4 linked regions of the Homo sapiens genome follow. The protein of the gene in region 2 interacts with the protein of the main gene of each other region in a pairwise test. Each region holds a gene or a part of one and is shown on either strand. Other genes may lie near its edges.

Evidence for each region.
Region 1: the proteins of MTERF3 (region 2) and SLC50A1 interact in binary tests that used the Homo sapiens proteins (3 or more experiments, as listed by UniProt).
Region 3: the proteins of MTERF3 (region 2) and ZDHHC21 interact in binary tests that used the Homo sapiens proteins (3 or more experiments, as listed by UniProt).
Region 4: the proteins of MTERF3 (region 2) and SYNGR1 interact in binary tests that used the Homo sapiens proteins (3 or more experiments, as listed by UniProt).

Annotation. Positions count from the first base shown.
Region 1 is NC_000001.11:155,130,905-155,138,851, reverse strand, and holds the start of SLC50A1 (sugar transporter SWEET1), read right to left. Parts: upstream 3,001-7,947; 5' UTR 2,941-3,000; coding exon 2,861-2,940; intron 2,554-2,860; coding exon 2,476-2,553; coding exon of another isoform or gene 2,456-2,475; intron 2,025-2,455; coding exon 1,901-2,024; intron 1,292-1,900; coding exon 1,130-1,291; intron 874-1,129; coding exon 754-873; intron 691-753; coding exon of another isoform or gene 679-690; exon of another isoform or gene 673-678; coding exon 571-672; 3' UTR 1-570. Other genes in the region: EFNA1 (ephrin-A1 isoform a precursor), read right to left, coding at 4,785-4,897, 5,072-5,122, 5,284-5,349, 7,218-7,513. UniProt on the Homo sapiens protein: Mediates sugar transport across membranes. May stimulate V(D)J recombination by the activation of RAG1.
Region 2 is NC_000008.11:96,244,592-96,251,638, forward strand, and holds part of MTERF3 (transcription termination factor 3, mitochondrial isoform 1 precursor), read right to left. Parts: intron 6,505-7,047; coding exon 6,315-6,504; intron 1,864-6,314; coding exon 1,716-1,863; intron 1,341-1,715; coding exon 1,269-1,340; intron 1-1,268.
Region 3 is NC_000009.12:14,610,534-14,613,442, forward strand, and holds the end of ZDHHC21 (palmitoyltransferase ZDHHC21), read right to left. Parts: 3' UTR 538-2,909; downstream 1-537. UniProt on the Homo sapiens protein: Palmitoyltransferase that catalyzes the addition of palmitate onto various protein substrates. Palmitoylates sex steroid hormone receptors, including ESR1, PGR and AR, thereby regulating their targeting to the plasma membrane.
Region 4 is NC_000022.11:39,345,968-39,353,025, reverse strand, and holds the start of SYNGR1 (synaptogyrin-1), read right to left. Parts: upstream 3,036-7,058; 5' UTR 3,016-3,035; coding exon 2,917-3,015; intron 1-2,916. UniProt on the Homo sapiens protein: May play a role in regulated exocytosis. Modulates the localization of synaptophysin/SYP into synaptic-like microvesicles and may therefore play a role in synaptic-like microvesicle formation and/or maturation.

The sequences.
Region 1 (7,947 bases), on a different chromosome or scaffold from region 2:
CAGGGGTGGGGAACACTTTATTTTAAGGCATATTCATATCAGCATATAAGGCATATTCATATCACAATGGCACGATCTCAGCTCACTGCAACCTCCACCTCCTGGGTTCAAGCAATTCTCCTGCCTCAGCCTCCCAAGTATCTGGGATTACAGGCATGTGCCATCATGCCTGGCTAATTTTGTATTTTTAGTAGAGATGGGGTTTCACCATGTTAGTCAGGTTGGTCTTGAACTCCTGACCTCAGGCGATCCGCCCACCTTGGCCTCCCAAAGTGCTGGGATTACAGGCGTGAGCCACCGCGCCCGGCCTTTTAAGGCATATTCTAAAGATTGCACCCCAACCTCCAAAATTAAAAAAAAAAATCTCTAAAAAATAAAAAGTGATTTCATCTCCTAGGCCCCAATCAATCATCTAAGTAAAGCTTTTTCTTTGGTCCTTTTATCCTCAAAGTCATCTCTTGTTCCCACAACCCACTGCACCTGGGAAGCTGGACAGCAGGCCCAGCTGAAACAAGGAGGTCTCTTTGGTTCAGGTTGGCACTAAGGTGCCCAGTGGTCAGATGAGCAGCCTCAGGTTTGCAGGAGCCAGTAGTTCCTGTCTTGCTCCTGGGGGTACTTCCAGAAAAGCCAGAAGCGGATAAAGCTGGTGACGATTCCTGGAAAGTTGGACACCTGAAATCACAAGAACTGCTATGAGGAGAGGAGCCAGTTTTCCATCTTGCACCCCTGTCACCCCATCCCAGTTGTGCTTACCATGATATAGGGATCTCTGAGTCGAAACCCATAGAGGCACCAGGAGGCAGAGGTGAGAAGGGTAGCAATGGTGAGTGGGTAGGAGAGACATTGGGTTGATTTAGTTTGAATCACCTTAGCCTGTGGGAAAGAATGGAAGACTCTCTTGGCCCAAGCACATCGTAAAGCTTCACTTGCCTAAGAATTTCCTCAAGAAAAAGGTCAGACACCCTCCCTGATCTGTCACCCAACCTTTCCTGCCTCCCACTCGCCCACTTCTACTGCCTTGTCTTCTTCCAGGGTTTGGATCTCCCCTTCCTCGGGACTGTAAGCCATAGTATTTGGCTATGAGAGCCTGACTCTTATCTCTCCTACCTCCTTGGACACCCCCACTCACCAAGTCAGCCAGTGGTGAGAGGTACATGCTGATGGTGAAGACACTGCAGAAGAGGCCCAACTGCTGAAGCCGGGCCTCAGGGTTGGGTACCAGGAGCCAAAAGTAGCCATAACCCAGGAGAAGGACCCCTAGCAGGGTTGCAGTCTGTAGGAGCACAACACGCTGCAGGGGAGAGAGTACCCTTACTTCCAGATGTGCACTCTGACTTCCCTGCTAGAGTTAATTCATCCTGCCTTCTCCAGTGCTCCAATGGGGAAGCCAAGCTGTCTAGGCCTCCAGCACTGCACTGTCACAGCTTCTTTCCCACCACCAACTTGATAGGAAAGTCTTATCCACCCACAACACTGGAGACTTCTGGGGGAGATAAATATGTGTTTTTTTCTGTGTGCTTGGCACACACAGTAGGAGCTTCATAAATGCTTGTGTGATTTAGCAGGGACGCAGAGCTAATCATCTCATTCTCACCCACAGGCCCTGGCTCTGAAAGAAATATCAGAGACAAAAGCCCTTTCCCCTTAGCTTGTTGGCTGAAGCCCAGGGCAGGCAGCATAGGCATCTCAGGCTAGGCAGAGCTACCAGCCTTGCCTAAATGGGGGCAATGTGTTCATCTCAGAAGGCTGGCTTCATAGAGGAAGGGGACCTGCAAGGCTGGAGAGGCCTTCCTGGAAAAGGTGGCAGTGCCAGCTGTTACAGTCTTCTAGGAAATAGTGTTTGCCCTGCCAGCAAGGCAGGGCGTGCAGCAGATAGGTGGGTCCAAGGGAGGGCCTCTACCTTCCGAGGGCAGTAATGCAGATATGCCAAGATATACAGGGTCTGAAGCGCAGCACCCACTGTGTTGACGACGATGAGGATCCCGTCTCCCTTCAAAGCCCCATAACTCAGCCAGCCCAGGTTGCTGCAGGGTGGAGGGGATGGACATGGCTCAAAGGGTTCAGTGTGAGAGGAGGACCCAAAGGGTCTTTCACTCTTTTTTTTTTTTTGAGACGTAGTCTCGCTCTGTCGCCCAGGCTGGAGTGCGGTGGCACGATCTCGGCTCACTGCAAGCTCCGCCTCCTGGGTTCACGCCATTCTCCTGCCTCAGCCTCCCGAGTAGCTGGGACTACAGGCGCCCGGCACCACGCCCGGCTAATTTTTTGTATTTTTAGTAGAGACGGGGTTTCACCGTGTTAGCCAGGATGGTCTGGATCTCCTGACCTCGTGATCCGCCCGTCTCGGCCTCCCAAAGTGCAGGGATTACAGGCGTGAGCCACCGCGCCCGGCCAAACCTCTTTCACTCTTGCTCCTCCTGCCCCGCCCCCACCTCCCTCTGGTAGCCTTTCCCACTACCGCAGCCGTCGGCCCCTCACTTGACTTCCGTGGTGAGAAAGGGCAGGAACTGGACGTTGTCCACACTCCGGGTCATTCGCATGTGCCTGAGGTCCGAGCTGTAATGGGGCCCCGAAGGGAGGGGTGGGGGTGGGAAGGGAGAAGCAGAGTGCTAGAGGGGGATGCCCAATGCCTGTCATCCTTTCCGGACCACCGCAGACCCCGCCCCCTCTCCCCCCCGCCAGCTATCCTGCCTTCTCCTTCAGGCCTAGTGACCAGCCTCGCCCTTGTACCCCGGTCCCCTCGACCCGATCCCACTTTGATCCCGGTTCCGGACGAGCCAGGTGCTGTGGCCACGTCTCTGTCCCCTCTCTCTCCTTTCCTGACTGCCTAGTCCTCCCCAACCCAGCCCGGCCGCACTCTCACAGGCCGGCGGAGAACATGCCAAGGGTGAAGACCACGCATGCTCCGTAAATGAGCGAGTCCAGAAAGCCGCCCGCCTCCATTACGACTAGAGTCGGATCCCGCGCCCAGCGCCCGCCGCGAGCCTGCGGTTGCCGGGACCTACTGCAGCCCAGACCTGCGGCTCTGGAGCCCCGCCCCGCGCACTCGGCTCCGCCCCCGCACGCTCGGGCCGTCCCTCCGGAAACTGCGCCGAAGCCCCACCCTCCCTCCGACGCCGAACCGGAACTCGCGCCCCTCTCCTCCGAGCGCCTTCCCAGTACCCTGGTCCAGACCTCTTCCATGTCCCGGTCAGTCCCCTTCCTAGGGCTCCGCGGGTGTGTCCCCGATACCTGCCGCTGCTCACACTCTGCCTACCCCTTGGATCATCTAGACGCCCCCAGTCTCAACGCTCGTGTTCCCACAGGCCTGTGCGCCTTCGGCGGTGGACCTCCAAACAAAAGCTTGCTAGTTTAACAAGACTTCAGCACGCTTTCCATCCAGAGCTCCACATCAGAACCTCAGTTGCCCAGGGTTTGGGAAGTTTTTTTCTGGAGTGTGCTGCCGAAGCTTTTTCTCAAAATAACACATTACCAGGAATCACCAAGCCTTCCTCTTTTGCCCTCCCTCTCGGGTCAACTTTACATGACGTGGCCAATCCACTGACGCCTCTATCACTGACCCCCGGTCCAACCCACTTGTTACTGGGAACTTTCCCTCCCAGCCTCCCACACGTCTCTGCTAGTGTGGCTGTGGGGCGGGGCCGCATGCCTCAGCTGGCGTTCCCAGCTTCCCTGACTCACCGAAACAGCGTGAGTACCTGAATGGTAGTATGCCAAAGCCCTGCGGTGACGGAGTGGGAGTGGGGTAGAGGTCGGATAGGAAGAACTTCCAGAGTGGAGTGCAGCTCAGAACCCGAGAGACAGCTGTCAGGAGCACTCCGGTCCTGGACAGCCCTCAGAGGAGGAAACATCCCACCCTTTTGGCCTCGTGAGGGGCACACATTCTTTGGAGAGAAAGAAATTCAAACCCAGTTGCTACTGTTGTAGCACAGAGAGCCTCGCACTTAGCAGGGACTCAATGGTCATATGTTTTAATATGGAGTGGCAGAAAAGCATGTCCGAAAAAACACATTGCTTTATTTTGAGACAAAGAACATTGTATAAAAAAACTCCAGTTGTAGAAATCAGGACAGACACACAGCAACTTATATACAGATACTATACACGTGGGCCCTGCCCTTTAGGCTACACTCTAGGCAGAATGTACACATGGGCACTGCCCTTACAGCTACACTCTAAGAACAGGTTGGCACAGCCCCCCTGCTGGCACAGCTCTGGGGAGTGCTGCCCCAGGATGGGAGAGAATGCAGTACCTGGCTACAAACTTCTCTGTGGCAGCTCCACAGATGAGGTCTTGCTGGGAGATGCTGGGTCAGCCCAAGCATGCTGCCTCTCCTGTACCTGGCTTCCAAGCAAGAAACTGTTTCTTGCTTTTCCTTCAGTCAGTTCATCTGGGCATCCTGGCTCTCTCCTGGAGGGGGCATCTTTGACAAGCTTTGCCCATCCACGTGGCCCCTTCCAGCTCAGCTCCCACTGTGCCTTAAGGGACCATGCCTGCACAGCTTGTTTCTTTGGCTTAAAGGCAGGAATGGTGGGAAAGGACTGTCTCCACTTCTTTCTCCATCCCTCCGAGGTGAAGGTGGGGATGGCACTGTCGGGCTGGTTGGCCTCCTTCCGGTTGAAAACCTTAATACTGACCCGTTTTGAGGCTGCTAGGTGATAGCTTATGCCTGTGGTGGGAGTGGTTCCCAGGGCTGGGGGCTCTGAAAGTGGCCCCAAGACAGGTTTGGAGTGCCTGTCCCTCTCTTCAGCCTGTCCCTCTTTAAGGCCAGGTGTGGCATACACCTTCACGGGGTTTGCAGCAGCAGAAGTGGAAGGAGCAGCACAGTCCAGGCAAGTGGGAAGAGGCGTGGGGCAGCACTGTGACCGATGCTATGTAGAACCCGCACCTCTGGGTCATCTGCAAGGTGAGAGGGCAAAGGCCACCAGTGTGAGTGGCTCCACTATTTGTACTGGCTCTCAGCCCAACAGGATTCCCTCAGCCTCAGCCTGGTAAAGGAGCCACCTCCTGTACCCAACCTCTTCAAGCAGACCCCTTCCTGTGCCCCAGGCCCAGTTTGCTCCAGCTACCCACCTGCTGCAAGTCTCTTCTCCTGTGGATTGTCATGGGCCTGAGGACTGTGAGCTGAAAGACAAGAGTGGTAGTAGATCAGGTACTGTATCAAAGAGGCAGAGGGCTGTAAGTATGAGTGGGCTGGGCTGCAAGACTTCTATACCATCCTAGATCACTAGACCGCACCCAGCATAGAGATGGAGGAAGGAGGCCCACAGGGCTCTGACACTCACTGATTTTGCCACTGACAGTCACCTTCAACCTCAAGCAGCGGTCTTCATGCTGGTGGATGGGTTTGGCTGCAAGATAAGCCCACAGGGGTTAAATAAGAAACCTTTGCTGGAAGAAAATGTAAGTCCAAATGCCCCTCGCCCTGCTTTCTCAGCTCCCTACTCAATTTCATTCTTCTCTTCCCTCTAACCTTGATTCCTACCCTCCTTAGTTTTTGCTAACTTCCTGCCCAATGTTCAGCCCAGCCTCTCATTCTTTGGAAATAACCCTCAGCATAGACACTGCCCCTCCCCACATTTCATCCTTCATTCCTCCGAGTCTGAATATGTTCCTCTTGCCTGGGCCACTTAATACTACTCCTAGGCCAGGCGCGGTGGCTCACACATGTAATCCCAGCACTTTGAGAGGCCGAGGTGGGCGGATCACGAGGTCAGGAGTTCGAGACCAGCCTGGCCAATATGGTGAAACCCCGTCTCTACTAAAAATACAAAAATTAGCCGGGCATGGTGGCACATGCCTGTAGTCCCAGCTACTCGGGAGGCTGAGGCAGAAGAATCAATTGAACCCGGGAGGTGGAGGTTGCAGCAAGTCGAGATCGTGCCACTGCACTCCAGTCTGGGCGACAGAGCGAGACTCTGTCTCAGAAAAAAAACAAAAAAACAAAAACTACTCCTGCCTAGCCCCCACCGACAGAGTCCTAGATCCATCTTATACAAAGCTGATCTCATAACTTTCTTTTTGAAACGGAGTCTCCCTCTGTCACCCAGGCTGGAGTACAATGGTGTGATCTCGGCTCACTGTAACCTCACACCTCCTGGGTTCAAGCGATCCTCCTGCCTCAGCCTATTGAGTAGCTGGGACTACAGAAGTGCGCCACCACACTCGGCTAATTTTTGTATTTTTTTAGTAGAGTTGGGGTTTCACCATGTTGGCCAGGCTGGTCTTGAACTCCTGACCCTAGGTGATCCACCCACCTCGGCCTCCCAAAGTGCTGGATGATCTCATAACTTTTAAAATCCATCAGGCCATGCGCGGTGGTTCATGCCTATAATCCCAGCACTTTGGGAGGCTGAGGCGGGCAGATCACTTGAGGTCAGGAGTTCGAGACCAGTCTGACCAACATGGTGAAACCCCATCTCTACTAAAAATACAAAATTAGCTGGGCGTGGTGGCAGGTGCCTGTAATCCCAGCTATTTGGGAGGTTGAGGCAGGAGAATTGCTTGAATCCGAGAGGTAGAGGTTGCAGTGAGCAGAGATCACACCACTGCACTCCAGCCTGGGCGACAAGAGTGAAACTCCATCTCAAGAGTAATAATAATAATAAAATAAAATAAAATAAAACCCATCAGTGGCGAGAGCCCTCAGGATAAAGTCCAAACTCCTTATCACCTTTTAGTTCCCCCATGGTCTGTTCTGTCCACCTCTCCAGGCTCACATCTCCTCACTTCCTGTGTCCCTCCAACTCCAGCCAGGCTGAGCCACAGGAAGTTCCCTGAAGATGTCATGCTCCCTTTGTACGTGTGCCTTCATGCCTGGCCAGCTCCTCTGCTTGTCCTGAGCTCTGGGACCATCTTCCCCACTGAGCCTTCTCTGAGCCCCATAGCCTGGCAGGTGCCCAGGTCATTTTCCCAAGGCCCCTGTGTTCATGTCTACTGTAGCACACTGTTCTAAGGGTCTCTTAACCTATGTGTGTTTCTTCCCAGCTTCCTTGAGGACAGGGGCTCTGTAGTGTTTTATTTATCTTTGTGCTCATAGCGCTAAACAGAGTGCCCAGCACATAGTAGAAGCTCACTCACATTGGGATGTAGATGAATGAAAATAGAATTCAAGATCGGAAGGGGCCCTCTGCTGCTGGACTCTACACCAAGCATGTACCCAAGCATGTATGTAATGGCAAAAAAGAAACACAGACACTGTCCCCTCACAGGCACTCACAGATGTAGTAGTAGCTGTGTCCTTCTTTGAACTCCTTGCCCAGGGTGAAAGGTGTGAAGCGCTGGAACTTCTCAGACAGCTTCTCCGGGCCATGCTTGGCACTGGGCCGGTTGCACTGCCAGCGGACTTGGTCCTTGGACTGGGGCTGGCACAGCTGGTACTCCTCATGCTCCACCAGGTACAGTATGTACTGCTCCATGGCAGCGTCTGCCACAGAGTGATCTTCATAGTGCGGACAGATGATGTCCACGTAGTCATTCAGCTGCACATGTATGGTGTAGTCCTCATTCCGGAACCTGGGGACACACACAGGGGGAAGAAGCAGGTGGTCATTCAGAAGCCAGGCCAGATCCTTGGGCCTCTGAATGTTTACATGACCTCTCACATTTCACACTGGACCCCAAGAGATTTTTCCGAAGTTTCAACTCCCAATATGTACTGATCTTGATGTCTTACATTTCTCTCTGCCATCTCTAAACATTCCCCTGCACCATCACTGTCTCCTGTTGGTCCTTCAAATAGCATTCACTCAGTATCTTTCGGGTACCAAAGCATTTTCCATAACCCCCCTGATACTTACCTGATATTTAGATGGGCTTCTACCTATTTCTGTAGCTCACTTATCATTCTCTTCTACCCATAAATATTTCCCCAAATCTGTTCTACCAGTTGCTCCTTTTAAATGCTGTTAGGCCTCAATCTGAGACCCCCACAGGTCCATTCTGTAATC
Region 2 (7,047 bases):
GGTTTCACCATGTTGGCCAGGCTGGTCTCAAACTCCTGACCTCAAGTGATCTGCCCACCTCGGCCTCCCATGCCAGGGTTACAGGCATGAGCCACCACGCCTGACCATGATTCTTTTAAACTTAAAATAACATTTTAAAATTTGGAGACAGCTATGCCAGTGCCTTCAAGGAATTACAGCTTCCGGCTCCTGGGGTCACCAGAATTTCAAACCCCTCTGCTGAGAAAGAGCTACACCATGATGGTCATGAAGCTCACCAAAGGGGCAACCATAATTACAAGAGGGAATGAGTGACATGGGAGCGCTGCAGGTCAGAGGCATGGGCCCAACACCAAACAGATCCTTCAGCAGCAGGATCTTCAAAATGCTTTTTGAGCTTTTGCTCCCAAGTACACCCACATATGTGTTGTCTGAAAAACGACATGTCAACATTCCAAGCAGAGATGAGGAACTAAACAACCAAACACAGGCCGGGTCCTCTACTTGCTTTCATAGTGTCCTGTGTGCCCCCACCAAGTAACTGCCCCCATCACTCTGGATTTGATCCCCCACTAGATTGTAAGCTCCTTGGGAGGAGAAGCTGTCTCCTCAGCATGGCGCTTGGGCAGGAGCTCAATAAAAAGATTTCTTCAATGACTGAACTGTTCACCTCAGAAAACAGCCCTTATATAATATTTCAAATACTACTACAGCTTTATATACTAACTAGTCAGCTGCTCTTGGCTTTATCTTATTCTCTTGGAGGAAGGACAGTAAAGAGTGTCTGGTACATTCTGTGACAGAATGAGAGCTGGCAATTGGGACAGGTGCAAAGGAGAACAATGTGCTGGCTGCTACTCTTTTCACAGAAGTCTTTTGGATCCAGCCTCCAAAACTCCCTGAGACATACACAGACTGTCATGCTGGCCAACAGGAGTACTTTCGTAGACTGGTAACACTGCCCAGGTAACAAAGACGTCAGACGCCCACACTGGGCAACAGAAGCAGTTTCAGGGTACCACTTATATCCCTATCTAATGCTTTAGGATTGTGGGTATCAATGTCTGCAAGGTGATTTACTCAGGTTAATACCTGCTCAACGTGAAAATATTAACTGAAACAAACTGCTTGCTAGACATTTGTTAAAGATAATTTCCTATTTCTCTTTTTAGAAATAACTTATTTTAAAGTCTAGTTTTCTTTTACATGACAATAGCAAAATCTGTTCTCTTCAGAGGATTTTAACACTTAAAGAAACTGATTTCTCAAAAAGCCTAAAGTTGTCCTACCTTCATATTTTCTTTCACGGGTTCCAGACTTCCAGTTAGCAGCCTTGGGAGACGAACTACCAGATCTCTAGTCTGTGGTTGCAAACAAAACAATCTAGTATTACTATACGTGCATCTTTAACTAGTTTGGAAAATTAAGGCATTATTAAGATACAAAGTTAAAACTTAAAATATGACCCAATCAGAAAAATGATAGGAACCCCAGGAATAGATAAGATTAATACTGTTTGGAAAAAAAGAAAACAAAAACTGAAGGAACCAGTTTGATTAAGTATTATAAAATGATGGAGCTCTATGTTTAAACTAGCAGGATAATTCATTTTTGTACAAAAAATACCAGGAATTTATATGATTCACATGGGCCAGGCATCTGCTGGGAACATGAGATCTATCAGCTATTAAAATGTACCTGACATGGAAATAAACAAATTCTCTCCTTTTCTTTACCTTCTTCACACTAAGTTCAAGTTCTTTCTGAAAAAATCCCAATCTGTTATCCAGTCTTTCCACTGAAAAGTTCAGCAAAAATGGTGCTTTTCTGACCATCTGTGCAACATCTGCTTTACTGAAATTTTTTGAATGCAGATAAGCCACCCTAGAGAAACATAAATACATACGCATGTGATAAACACTTACATTCTTTTTTTTTGAGATGGAGTCTCATGCTACTTCCCAAAGTAACAGCTGTTTTTAAAAAGGCTCCCACACCCTAAATTACTAACTAAATAAAAGCATTCTGTAACAATGGCAAAAACACGTTTAAAACAAAACAAGCATTCACCCAACTCTAGATGGTTTCCACTTATACTTAAAAACAGAAAATAATTCTGAAATCCACTAATAGGTATTAGTTGCGGTTTTTGCCATTACTTTCAATAGCAAAAACATGATTACTTTTGCACCAACCTTTAGATTCTCTTTTCAATTAATCTGGTTTATTACTTGGTAAGAAAGAATGAAATAGCTTCTGCTTAAGATTTTTTTTTTTTTGATAAGAACAGAAAAACACAAATTAAGAAAATAACACAAATTAAGAAAATTAAGGAAATAATGGTTATAACTGAGAGAGGCATTTTTTAGGTTAGTATATTTACTGAGCCCCTCCCCTCCCCTCTTCTATTCTTTTCTTTTCAGGAAGAGTCCCGCTCTGTTGCCCAGGCTGGAGTGCAGTGGCATGATCTGGGCTCAATGCAACCTCCGCCTCCCAGGTTCAAGTGACTCTCCTGCCTCAGCCTCCCAAGTAGCTGGGATTACAGGCACACACCACTAGACCCAGCTAATTTTTGTATTTTTAGTAGAGACGGGGTTTCACCATGTTGACCAGGCTAGTCTCGAACTCCTGACTTCAAGTGATCCGCCCACCTCAGCCTCCCAAAGTGCTGGGATTACACTTGAGTGACCATGCCTGGCCTGAGCATGTATTTTTATAAATGATTTTTACTACAGTCTTTCAATATGTATTTTGTCAACTGAGAGATTTTCCTGCTAAGTTTCTGAAGATCAAACTATGTAAGTTAGTAAAATATAGAAAGTTTGACTATAAAATAACATTTTTAAAAAATCTAAAACATAGTAAAAGATGGTTTTACTAAATGTCTAAAATATATCAGGATATTATTTTGTTTAATTCTAACCAGAAAAACAAAAAAACTTGTGAGCCAAGTGAATTTTCCATGAGGAAACATGGATTCAGGGAAGTTAAATAACTTGTCTGAGATCATCACCTAATTACTGACAAAACTAAGATGTGAACTCAGGCATGCCTACATCTAAAGCCTATGGTATTTTTATACTATATACCAAAACTTATATTACTTTATAATCACATGACTATTACTCCTTTAAAAATAGTTAAAATATTTATACGTTTAAGTATATAAAAATTTTAAATGCATGGCAAAACAAAACAAAACAAAAACACCCCACTATAAATGAAGTCAAAAGACAAGTGACAATCTAGGAAAAATATCTGCAACATGTCTCAGAGACAGAACTAATTTTCTTCATATATAAAAGAACGTTTACCGAAAAAGAAAAAAGCCTGATTAAAAAATAGCAAAGGATATATTACAGAAAAGGAAATGTAAACAGAAATTCAACATATGAAAAGATGCTCCAAACAACATTCCATGTTTCAACATCTGATGCTCCAACCAACAAATAAAGTACTCTTTTTATCTATACAATCAACTGAAAGCAAAGTGTGATAGCACTGTATCTGTAAGGATAACAGGGAAGCTGGCACTTCTGTACACTGTTGGGGAGAGTATAAACTGGAAAACAACCCCTATGAAGGACAATTTGGCAATATCTATTGAAGTTACAGATGAACACACCCTTTGACCTAGCATTTCCACTTCTAGAAATACGTCCTACAGAGAGACACCAATATGTGTGATTTTTCAGAAGTATGTACAAGGTAAGTCACTACAGCCTTGTCCTAACAGTGGACTGGAAACATACTCCATGCTTATCAATAGGTACTAGCGAGATCCGCAGCATGGACTGTACTAGAGTTAAAAAGAATAGGCAGCACCAAGAAAAAATAATCTCCAAGATACAGTGAAGGTAAGATAGTGGGATACAGAATAGTGTGTATAAATGCTACCAATTGTTATGTATTTGTATTCATGTGTGTATACACAGATATATGCTTCCTAGAAGGTTGAACAAAAAATCCTGATAACAGTAGCTGTGTCGATAGGTGGGTCTTGAAAGGCCAAGGGACAAAGTAGGAGAAAAGGAGGTATTACTTGTTTTTTTGGCAGCAAGGTTCAGCATTTGATTAAAAAATTATCAAAACTATTGTCTACATTGTAATGATTTTTCCAATAAAAAATCAAGATATAAGGCCCACCCAACCAAAAAAAGAGTATTTAAATAATTAAAATGCGACTATTCATTTGAAAATTCTACAAGGATTTTTTAAATATAACTTTTTATTTAAAAAATAAGTACATGAAATCAGTGCTGTTATAGAAATAAGACTGCTGCATATATCAGAACCAGAAACAAAGTTCATTTAAATAAAGGTTCTCATACCTGTGCCTATTCAGTATTTTTTACTGTATACTCTTTTGAATACATGTGGCTGCATTACCTATTAAAAAATTCTAAGTAATTTTTAAAAATGTTCTACAGCTTAATTTGATAGCCAGCCAGGTTTAGGAATCAATGGACTATGCTACCGACGTGAGAATATTCCTCAATTGTTAGGAGCATATATGGCTTGAGCAAGTAACTTAAGCTATTAAGTTTCCTTCAAAGAATTAAATGTAGAGACAGTGTGTAGTAGTCAGAACCCTGGAGTTTGATTAACTGGGGTTGAAACCACTTACTCTGCTACTTATACTAACGGTGTGTAATCTTGGGCAAATTATTTAACCTCTCTGCGACTCCTATGTACAAAGGTGCTATTAACAATAATGGTGCAGCGTGTGAAATGATCCCTACCCTCCTGGTATTCATGCTTTCTTGGAATAAATCTTGAGCAAAAAGGGCAAGCTGGTTTTTGACTGCAGAGAGAATTAGTGTTCCTGACAGCCAAGAAGACTAGAGCTGGATATGTCAGATGAGTTTCTTAGAATCATTCTCTCTCCCTTCTGTATTGTGATAGACTATCACTCTCATGAAGGGAAAGACTGTTTTTGATGTCTAAAGTTTAGGCCAGTGTCTCACATATAGAAGGGCTCAAATGTTCAATTTAATAAATAAGGTTTTTGTTTAGTTTTTTTTCCTAATTCCGAGAAAAGACATTAGACTGATGGTTTAAGGAATCGCAAAGCTCTCTGAAATGTAGTAAGGATCAACATCAGTGTGGAGAACAGTCTGGAGGGTCATGACTAGAGGCAGACCAATTAGGAGACCATTGCAGTAATCTTGGTGTGATATTATGGGGAACTGAGGCAAAATAGTCAAAGCAAAGATTCAGAGAAATGTCATGACTGATTTGAGCTATAAGAAGAGAAGAACTGATGGGCTTTCATGATTTATTAGATGTAGATGATAAAAGAAGAGAAAGCAAGTTAATACCAGTATTTCTGAGTTGGGCAAAAGGGTATTCAGTGAATCTGGGAATACAGACTGGGTTGAATGACAGGTGGGGGCGACGATGAATTCAACATGTTAACTTAGGGACAGGGGTTTTGCCTTGTTCTCTGTGGTATTCCCAATGCCTAGCAGGATTCTTACCTCACAGATCAATATCTCACTGTATTTATTTTCACAAATTCAATAATTCTTTGAATGTTGAATGAAGTACAGAGATGTTTATAAAAGTGCTCCTTAAGAAGAAAACAAGGAACAACCAAAATAGCCAACTTACGGAAATGATTAAGCAAATTATACAGTAATTTGCCAAGACAATCTCAAATGTCTAACAACAAAAATTGGCCAGACAAAAACTACAAAAACCACAAAAGATCATATCTTTAAGTGCACTCTCAGATAAGTTAGCTATTTGTTGATGGGTTTTTTTTTTTTTTAAGAAAAAAACGTATTCCAGTTTCTAAAGAGAAAGAGTTAATTACTGACTCAGTAATAAGTTGAAAACATAAAAATAATAATGGAGCCAGGCAGGGTGGCTCATGCCTGTAAAATCCCAGCACTTTGGAGGCCAAGATGGGCAGATCACTTGAGGTCAGGAGTTCGAGAACAGCCTGGCCAATGTGGCGAAACCCCATCTCTCCTAAAAATACAAAAATTAGCCAGGCATGGTGGCCACCTGTAGTCACCCAGCTACTTGGGAGGCTGAGGCAGAAGAAGAAGAAGAAGAAGAAGAAGAAGAAGAAGAAGAAGAAGAAGAAGAAGAAGAAGAAGAAGAAGGAGGAGGAGGAGGGGGGGAGGGGGAGGGGGAGAAGAAGAATGGGTACTTGAATGAAAGAACTGTTGTAAATACTTAATTTAGATCAAAGAAGGTCTATAACAAAAAAAATTCATGTTATCTCAGTAGACCCTTGTGCAGCAGAGATTTAAAGAATACCTTCCACATATATTTCCTTCATAACCACTTCTTAGGTTATATGAGAATCCTTTTAAAAGTCCTACCTGGTCTTCAGATTTTCAAGGTCTTCAGAGAAAATTGCATGATTTTTTGTCAGGAATGCTCCCAGTTGGTTATCCTCTATACCCACATCTTTAAGAAACAGAAGCATTTGCTTAATGTCTTTTTCAAAATCCAGTCTCAGAAGGAGGTTTGCTGCTTCTGGATGTTTTTCTATCTTGGACAAATCCACGCCTATAATAAATTATAAATACTGTTTGAAGATGACTTCTTAGTTCACCCATTAAACTCATATACATAAGCACAAGAAATTACTGATGGAGATCAACACCTATCCAAAGGAGCACTGAGATAGATCAATAGAAACTTCTAAATATTTTTAAACTAAGTTGGTTGCAGAAACAACATAGTATTTATTTTAAAAATCAAGTACAGAGGAAAATAGAGCATTTAGTGCTACATTTCCCCCCAAAACAAATTCACTAAGTCATATTGGTGTAGGGTCATCATCTTTGTCTAAGGTTTCTTGAATATTGTTTCAGAATGTTTGTCAGTCCCAGATGAACCCCACAGTAACTGGTAATTCTGCAGGGTAACAAACAATATGAATAAAATGTTACCTTCTTTGAAGATTTTATTTTTCCTTAGTTATAAGCATTATTTAAAAAATATGTTTATGATTCCCATCATAGGGGGAATAAAAATGACCCTGTGCCTTACTCATCGTTGTAATCTCTAGGTCTTTAGCACGGAGACACGTCCCTTGAAGAAACTCAA
Region 3 (2,909 bases), on a different chromosome or scaffold from region 2:
CCTCTGTCTTTCAATCTCAGGGCAGTTTCTACTAACTCACTGTCTTTAAGACCTGCTGATTGATTTGTCTTTTCAGAGCTGATGATTTTTTTTGGCCAACTTCATAGGAGCACAGGCTTTAATTCAATATTGCCAGATCTAAAATAGTGCCTAGGTGTAAACTTAAAGTTTCTGCATTTTACTGTAAGTAAATTATTCCCCTCAAGAAAAAATACTGCTATAAAATAGTGTCTGCCACAATAAATGTTAAATAAATTGGGTGACTGAATCCAGCCATCTGCGTCATCTCTAAGATAAACATGCCTAACTAGAAATACTGCGTTTGTCAATTTCAGCCCTAGTATGTACACCTAGTTCTTTTTGAATACTTAATGAATTTTGTGATTATGGCAGAACAATATCCTAAGGCTAGTAATCATGAATAATTATCCACATTGTATAAAATTTTTAAAAGTGACCTATTACATTGGTAGTGCTGAAATCTAGAATTTGGGTTAATTTTCCTAAGTAAGAAAGGTAAGAGGATAAAAACAGTCCTACGTTTTTAAAAAATATTTATTTAAAAATAAGATTTCAAAAAATACAGTACTTAATACATTTTGAGAAGTAAAAATTCCACAATTTAAATTAAAAACAATCTGCAAAGAAAATAGAAATATTACGTGAAAAAAACTAAATCGCTACAATAAATTAAAAACAACAACATTGTTCTTAAGGTAGATACATGGTTTGATTTTCACATTAAGAACCAGTGTAGACTTTTCATCTAAACAAATACATCTCAGCTACATGGTTCCCACTTGTCATTTCACCCATTTTACTCACTCTTCTCAAACTATTCTTACATCTCTCAACTACTATTTTCCTAATTACCATCAACACTAGAAATATTGGTGAAGATTTTCTTCAAATTCTCTTAGGGGAAAGACAAGGTAAAAATAATAGACAATGCAAGGAAAACAGCACTCAGATCTATACATATTATGTACTGAATAATAAAATGCCTGACAAATTTAAAAACAGGATCTTCTTATGCCACTTGTAACATACCACTATTAAAAGCATTTTAGGGATATAATACTAGACAGAACTTGGGGTTCACACATAATTTTAGGAGCCTCAAGAATAACATAGATTTTGGCTATTCATTAAACTTGCCAGTTAGATCACACACAAAAAAACACTAATTCCAGGGACACAAAGTGAGCTCATACAGCATGATCCACGTGTGCTCTGTCCTTGCAAGAGCCTAGCTTTGTCCTCCCGTGTTAGACTCACAATTCACTTGTCGGAATATCTCTGATTCTGGTGGAAGTTTTTACTTTTGTATCATTTAGTTGCTTTATTCTTACATATATGAAGTAGAATTTTTTTTCTTTTATATGTTCATCTCTGGGAGACAGTGAATAGTGGTGAATTCTCTACTACTCAATAACTTGAAAAATTACTGCATTCAGCCACATGCATTTAAATCACGCATAAACAAGCCAAATTACTCAGAATCAATACAGTGGCAACACAATCTAGGGAATATTGTTGGCAGATTAGAGAGAGATAATGTTGCTTCATCTCATTAGGCTTTCAAATTTTGCTTTCACCTCTAATGATATGTTCATCTAGATTTCTACATATCGTTCAAATGATCTGAAGCCACATTTCACATAAATTTCAGACTTGATTCTTTTTTTCCATTCAGAATTGACTGCAAAACCATATATTGTATCTACATTCAAGGAGAGGTTGATTTTAGCTAACAATAATGCAAAATATTTTCAAATGTGAATGTCTGCCTTTCCAATATACACACTGTCACCTTCTTGCCAGAATGATTAACCATTTTAGCTGCAGTTGTAAGGACACTGAGTGTTTTGAGAATTTTAAAGGGAAAAATCTGGAACCCAAATAATATACATAGCAGCATTACATTTGGACAATTACATTTCAAAGGTGTTTTAAATTACGAGTACACTTAAAGGGTGTTTCTCTTCATTTTTGTAAAATTAACTACTAAGCAAAATTAGTTTTAAAAATCTTACTCTATGTAAAGTGAGTAACCATATCCAGACTTTTTTCTTTCATTAAGTTCAATTTTCTGTTATCAGTTTTGCTTAAATCAAGGTACATATGCATTTCCTCTTGGGAAAGCATCTCTCTCTCTGTCTCTCTCTCTGTCTGTCTGTCTCTCCGTATCTCTCTCTCTATATATCTACACACACATATGTACACATACATATATTTTAAAGGTGTTCTGTTATCTTTATTTGCAAAGTAGACAAATGGCAATATTATTCTTTAAAGCCACTAAAGATTACACACACACACACACACACACACACACACACACACACGCTGAACTCGATTTGTAATGAGAACGAACCTTAACTCTTCATCTTAGTATTTTGTTTCAGTATTCACTAAAGTGCCCAATAAGCTATATAGTTCATTTATATAAATTAGAGTTCTTACCTTTTTATTCATTGTTGCAGAAATAAAACAACTTGTGAAAAGTGCTTCAATTATCTTTTGTAATTTCAGCCTATCAAACTACCTTTTAAAGTAGCCAAGCTATATTAAAATACAAAATTAAAATCCATACATGCCTACCTAAAAAAAAATCCAAATGAGAAACATTTAAAATCCATTAAATTGCCAGAGCAGCATGCAAAAAATAAGATCTGTTAATCAAACTGTTCTTAGTAACATTAAATTCTACTTTATAAATACACAACGATGTGAGAAGAAAACTCAGTCAACCAAAAAGAAAATTAACTCTTTGGTACAGGAATTAAAAATGTCACTCAATGCTAAAGTGAATAGCACCAGGATGTTTTATAGTTGTTGAGGTTATAAAACACGAACTTCAGGCACCAGTAGGTTAAAATATCATCCAATGTATACTGGCAAGAATA
Region 4 (7,058 bases), on a different chromosome or scaffold from region 2:
GCTGGGCGTGGTGGTGTGTGCCTGTAGTCCCAGCTACTTGGGAGGCCGAGGCAGTAGAGTTGCTTGAACCTGGGAGGCGGAGGTTGCAATGAGCCGAGATGGCACCATTGTACTCCAGCCTGGGCAACAGAGCAAGACTCCATCTCAAAAAAAGAAAAAAAACAATCACAGGTTCATGTGCACATGCTGTTAGGGCCCCTCCAGGGCTGTGGTAGGGGTCTGGGTTGTCCAGGAGTCCTGGACAGGGTGACAAATTGTCCCTGTTTGTCTGGACTAAGGGCCTCTCAGAATGCTAAAGGCAGGAAGTTCCAGCACACCAGGATAAACGGGTCACCCTGGTCCTGGAGCTCAGCTTCACTTGCTCTGCCCTGTGGTGTGAGGGCCAAGAGCAGGCGCCAGCTGCATCCCCCGCAGCTCCTGATGTGTTTAAATGGCTCAGCACGCCACACAGTTTCGAAAAGACCAGAAGGAGACAGCACCCTATTCACTGCAGCCCTCCCTAAGTGGTGGTATCACATGATTACCACCCCCCACCAAACTTTTTCTGTTGTGGTAAAACACACGTAACATACAATTTACCATCTTCACCATTTCAGTGGTGTTAAGTACATTCCTACCGTGCAACCATCACATGTGATTTTTATACTTTCCAATAATTGGCAGGTATTACTCTGATCAGGAAAAAAAGCTACTTTTAAAGGTGTCAATCAGCCTGTATCAGACACCTCTTGGTTCGACAAAGGTAGTGAGCGCCTTGTATCCACGTGTGTGAGCAGGACTGGGAGGCTGTGGGGTCGTTTGAGCATTGGTTGGTCCAGGTGACCTTTGTGTCCTTTCCAATCCTGACATTCCAGGATTCTGGATTCTTCCCTGCCCCAGGGGGAGAACTACTCTTTGGAGACAGGAAGACCTAGGCTCAAATGCTCGTCTGCCACTTACATGCTTAGTGACTTTGGGCCAGGCACTTGGCCTCGCTCGCTGAGCCGCAGCTTCCTCTAGTGTTGGGGAACCAGCTAGGTAGCTGTGTGTGGTCTTGCACCCCATGGGTGCTCAGAGGGGCTGATCCTTCCTCCTGCTTTCCACGTCCTCTCCCCTGGATGTGCATATGTATAAACCCTCATCCCACCAGGCCCAATCTGACATCACCTTCACCATGAAATTTGATTCCACAGCAGGGAGACCCCTCTCCTGGCTCTTGCGGCCTCTGCCTGGGGGCACCTGGCTCACTCCCCAGTGGGACTGTGGCTTCCCGAGAACAAGGGCTGCTTCTGAGTCACGCTGCCTTCCCTTGGGGCCCAGCAGATTCAATAAAGCTTTGCTAAATGAAGGCATCAGAGGCAGAAATGACCCAAGCAGACAAGCCCCCTCACAAAGCCAGTGGCTTCGCCCTTCCAGGCCAGAGGCCCAGGGGTGGGCAGACTAAAGCAGTGAACGCAGCCCACCCGCCTGATCCGGCAGGTGCCCCCCAGGGCTCCCACCTTTGGCAAGGGTCTGTTGGGGCATCTGGGGAGCAGGAGACTGGCACAGATAAATGAATTCAGAGCCACAAACACAGATGTGCTGGGGTGCCCGGCTCTGTGCAGGCACCGACACAAGGGTTAAAGGAACTGGGCTTTCCTGCCCTCAAACAGCTCCCATCTGACGGCATTTGAGAAGAAAAGGCTTTAAATGGGGTCATCCTTCGCAGACCAGGGATACATACCCAAGCCATCCTACCAACCAGACCCTGAAAACCAAGGAAAGGAGGAAGCTTGGGCACCCTGAGGTCACAGCTGGCCTTGGGGTAGCCCCTGGGGTCCCTGACAGTCTAGCCCATTCCTAGTCTAAGCCCACAAGGAACGGGCCCCAGGCCTGCAGAGGCCAGAACCTCGAGTGGGAGTTTCTGGGATACAGCCAGCCAAACCCAGGGAGCCCCAGAAACCCCCTCTCCAGACCCCAGCAGGGCTTCTTTCCATGAGGTGCCACTCAAGGCACCTGAACCCCTCCCTCTGTGCTCACTGTCTCTGACCCATCCTCTCCCTGACCACCCGTCTGAACAAGAGCCCACTCAGCCCTCTGCACTGAGGACCCTGCCCCCCAGCTAGGCTGGAGGCCACCCTGGCCTCTTCACTGTGGGAGCAGACCTTTCTCCCAGACACCCGCCTTGGGCATCCAGGTGCATGCTGAGTGGGAGGGGTGTTACCGGTTCATGAAATGTCAGAGCCCAAGGGGGCCTCAAGAAGGCTCCGCCCACCTTGTCTATAAATTGGGAAACTGAGGCATGAGAGAGGAGATGACACTCCCCACCTCGGAATTGAAGTCCTCATTTCTCGAGAACATTTCCTGGGTGGCTCCCAGCCCAAGGTCACGCAGAGAAGGAGAGGCAGTTCCCGGGTGGAAGAGAGGTACTCAGTTCCCGACTCATCGCTCCACACGGGCCGGGCTAGGCAATACGAACCCGGTTCCCGGCCCTCTCCTCCTCCAACGTCCATCGCAGGCGCGGCATGCACCCCACCGAGATGGTCCACGCCCTGATCCACCCCCCAAAAAAGGCCACCTTAAACCCTGGCTCCGTCCCCACGGTCCCCAGTCCGCCCTGGCGGCCGCGCACAATCCGAGCCTTTCGCGGCATAGCCGCGGCCTGGAGGTCACAGCAATCGGGGCGGGAAGGGGGGCGCACGAACCGGGGGCCCCAGGAAACCAGGGCTCCGGGAGCCGGAGCGGCGTCTCCCGCGAGCACCAGGGATCCCGCCCGCCCCGGGCCCGGGAAGGAGGAGCGGCGGCAGCGGGCCCCGCAGGCAGGACAGCTCCTCGCCCGCCGCCGCGCCGCCGCCGGGGGCCCGTTGGGGTCGGGGTCGGGGTCGGTCCGGGCGCGCCGCCTTTGCTCACACCCCCACCACCCCGGCCTGGCAGAGCCGTCGGCCAGTCCGTCCTTACCCAAGACACGACGCGCAGGATGGTGTGCGGCTGCCGGACCAGGGTGTAGGGGTCGAAGGCGCCCCCGGCTTTGCCCGCTCCGTACGCACCCCCTTCCATCGTGGCTGCACCCGCGCGGTGCCCCCCGCTCGGCGCGCGCCGCCGGCCCGTGCGCGTGCGCGGCGCCCCCGCCCCCTCCCCTGCGCGCGCGGCCGGCGGCCCAGGGCTCCCGCGAGGGGGCGTCGTGCGCGGCGGGCGCAGCTCGCGGGGCGCGGGCGGGGGGCTGGGCAGCGCGCGACCTCGGGCGCGGGGGCGCGCGTGCTGCGGCCCGGGGCTCAGGGCGCGCTCGCAGCCAGTGCGGTGACCTCTTTGCAAAGTGTTTGGGGGAGGGCGGTGCGTGCACAGCAAGTGTGGGCCGTGTCCCTGCCCCGCATCCCCGGTCCCCTGCCCCGGTCGCAGCCCCTCTGAGCCGTCGGCTCTGCTGAAACCATCTTCACGCTTGATTTGTTTGGCTGTTTCCTGCCACTTTGTCGGCCCCAAATATAATGAGAGGGCAGGAGCTGTGTTCGTCCTTCTTAGAGGGTGCTTGGTACGCAGTAGGCGCCGCATGAATATTTCTCGAATGAATGAACCACGAGTGAATGACCCTCTCTTACAGCCCTCCAGAGCAGCCCCCACCTCCCAGGACCACCCTTCCCCTGCCTCTTACGATGACGTCATGTGTGTCCCTGTGCCCGCGCACCCTCCCACCCCCAGCCTGGAGGGGCCTGGCACAGAGGCGGCGGCTGAGACTTCCTCTTCCCCATCCCCTCCTACCCCAGAACGTTGCCCCTTTCCTGAATCTAGCAATTAATTACGCAATCATTTGTTCATGGCCTCTTCTGCTGCTAGTCTGTGAGCTCCCGAGGCCCAGGTGTTGTCTAACTTATTCAATGCCTTACCCAAGGGCCTAGCATACAGTAGGTGCTCAGTAAACAGAGCCTAGTCCCCATCACCCCATCACAGCTTGGGCTAGACCTCCAGGTTTCATGGAAACGGAGGCTAGATGGAGGAGTGCTCCCTGCAGGGGAAGGGCCACCTTCCAGGGCTGGCTCTCCTGCTGCCCTGTAGCTCTATGGCCTCTCTATGTCTGCAGTCACCTTCACTGGTTCCAGGAGCAGGTTGGATGAGGATATGGGTGGAGGCTTTTGCTTCTCTGGTATCCTGCCATTCTGTGATGACAGGACACAACATCTGTGTGGAGGAAATGTGTGCTGGGCCTGAGGGTGCTCCTTATAAAAATTACATAGTCAATGTCCATCTTAGGCTCAGCTGATTGTTTAGTCTCTACCAGGCCTTGTGCTAAGGGCTTTACATACATTTTCACATTTAATCCAGCACACTTATAAGGTGTCTACTATGACTATATAAAACTTTTAGAAGAAAGCACAAGAGAAGGCCGGGCGCAGTGGTTCACGCCTGTAATCCCAGCACCTTGGGAGGCCAAGGTGGATGGATCACAAGGTCAAGTGATTGAGACCATCCTGGCCAACATGGTGAACCCGGTCTCTACTAAAAATACAAAAATTAGCCGGGCGTGGTGGCGAGCTCCTGTAGTCCCAGCTACTTGGGAGGCTGAGGCAGGAGAATCACTTGAACCCAGGAGGTGGAGGTTGCAGTGAGCCGAGATCGCGCCACAGCACTCCAGCCTGGCAACAGAGCGAGACTCCGTCTCAAAAAAAAAAAAAAAAAAAAAAAATCATGAAGAACATGATTCATAAAAGAAACAATTGATAAACTGGACTTTATCAAAATTAAGAACTTCTGTTCTTTAAAAGACATTGTTAAAAGAATGTATGAAAAGACAAACGATAGTCTGGGAGAAAATATTTGCAAAGCATAGATCTAAAGAACTTGCATCCCAAATAAAGAACGTTCGAACTCAATAATAATAAGAGGACCCACTTTTTAAAAAATGGGCAAAAGATTTGAATAGTTATACACCTCACCAAAGAAGATATACACACGGCAACTCAGCACATAAAAAGATGCCCAGCATCCGCGGTGGCTCACGCCTATAATCCCAGCACTTTGGGAGGCCGAGACGGGCAGATCATGAGGTCAGGAGATTGAGACCATCCTGGCTAACACGGTGAAACCTCATCTCTAGTAAAAATACAAAAAAAAAAAAAAAAAAATTAGCCGGGTGTAGTGGCTGTAGTCCCAGCTACTCGGGAGGCTGAAGCAGGAGAATGGCGTGAACCCGGGAGGCGGAGCTTGCAGTGAGCCGAGATCGCGCCACTGCACTCCAGCCTGGGCGACAGAACGAGACTCTGTCTCAAAAAAAAAAAAAAAAAAAAAAAAAGAAAGAAAGAAAGAAAAGAAAAGATGCCCAACATCATTAGTCAGAAATACAAGCTGGGTGTGATGTGGTGTGTACCTGTGACCCCAGCTGCTTGGGAAGCTGAGGCTGGAGGATTGCTTGAGCCCAGGAATTCAAGGCTGCAGTGAGCCAGGATTGCACCAATGCACTTCAGCCTGGGCAACCAAGTGAGACTGTTAAAAGAAAAAAAAAAGAGAGAGAGAGAAGTACAAATTAAAATTAGAATGAGATACTTCTACACATCTATTAATATGGCTAGGCTGGGCACGGTGGTTTACGTCTGTAATCCCAGCACTTTGGGAGGCTGAGGCGGTGGATTGCTTGAGGTCAGGAGTTCAAGAACAGACTGGCCAACATGGAGAAACCCAGTCTCTACTAAAAATACAAAAAAAATTAGCCGGGCGTGGTGGTGGGTGCCTGTAATCCCAGCTACTCGGGAGGCTGAGGCAGGAGAATAATCACTTGAACCCAGAAGGTGGAGGTTGCGGTGAGCCGAGATGGCACCACTGCACTCCAGCCTGGGCGACAGTGTCAAAAAAAAAAAAAAAAAGTGAAAAGTTTACTCACAGAAAAACCTGTACAGAAGTTTTATTTCTTTTCTTTCTTTATTTATTTATTTTTGAGACGGAGTCTTGCTATGTCACCCAGGCTGGAGTGCAGTGGTGCGATCTTGGCTCACTGCAACCTCTGCCTCCTGGGTTCAAGTGATTCTCCTGCCTCAGTCTCATGAGTAACTGGGATTACAGGTGCCCGCTGCCATGCCGGGCTAATTTTTGTATTTTTAGTAGAGACGGGGTTTCACCATGTTGGCCAGGCTGGTCTTGAACTCCTGACCTCAGGTGATCCGCCTGCCTCGGCCTCCCAAAGTGTTGGGATTACAGGCATGAGCCACCGAGCCCAACCCTGAACAGAAATATTTGGAGCAGTTTTATTCGTAATAACCCAAACGTGGAAACAACCTAAATGCTCCTCAAGTTGGGAGGGTATAAACTGTGCACTACTCAGGAATAAACACTACTCAGGAATAAAAAGCAATGAACAGTGGATACACTCAACAATATGGGTGACCCTCAAGTGTATTATGCAAAGTGAAAGATGCCAGACTCAAATGTCTAGAGACTGCAGGATTCCCTTTATGTGACATTTTTGCAAAGGCAAAACTGTTAAGGACAAAAAAAAGATCAGTGGTTGCCAGGGGATTGGTGGGCAGAGAGTTACTACTAAGAGGCACGGGGAAATCTGGAGGCATGATAGAATCATTCCATATCTTGTTTATGGGAATGGTTACATAATTAATACAATTGTTAATTTATTTTATTAATAAAACATGTTTTATTAATAAAATAAAAAATGTTTGTCAGCTGGGCGCTGTGGCTCATGACTGTAATCCCAGCACTTTGGGAGGCCAAGGTGAGCGGATCACAAGGTCAGGAGATTGAGACCATCCTGGCCAACATGGTGAAACCCCGTCTCTACTAAAATACAAAAAATTAGTGGCCGGGCATGGTGACTTAAGCCTGTAATCCCAGCACTTTGGGAGGCTGAGGCAGGCGAATCACGAGGTCAGGAGTTCAAGACCAGCCTGGCCTGTAATCCCAGCTACTCGGGAGGCTGAGGCAGGAGAATTGCTTGAACCTGGGAGGCGGAGGTTGCAGTCAGCCAAGATCGAGCCACTGCATTCCAGCCCAGGTGAAAGAGTGAGACTCCGTCTCAAAAAAAAAAAAAAAAAAAATTAGCTGGGCGTGGTGGCATACGCCTGTAGTCCCAGCTACTCGGGAGGCTGAGACAGGGGAATCACTTG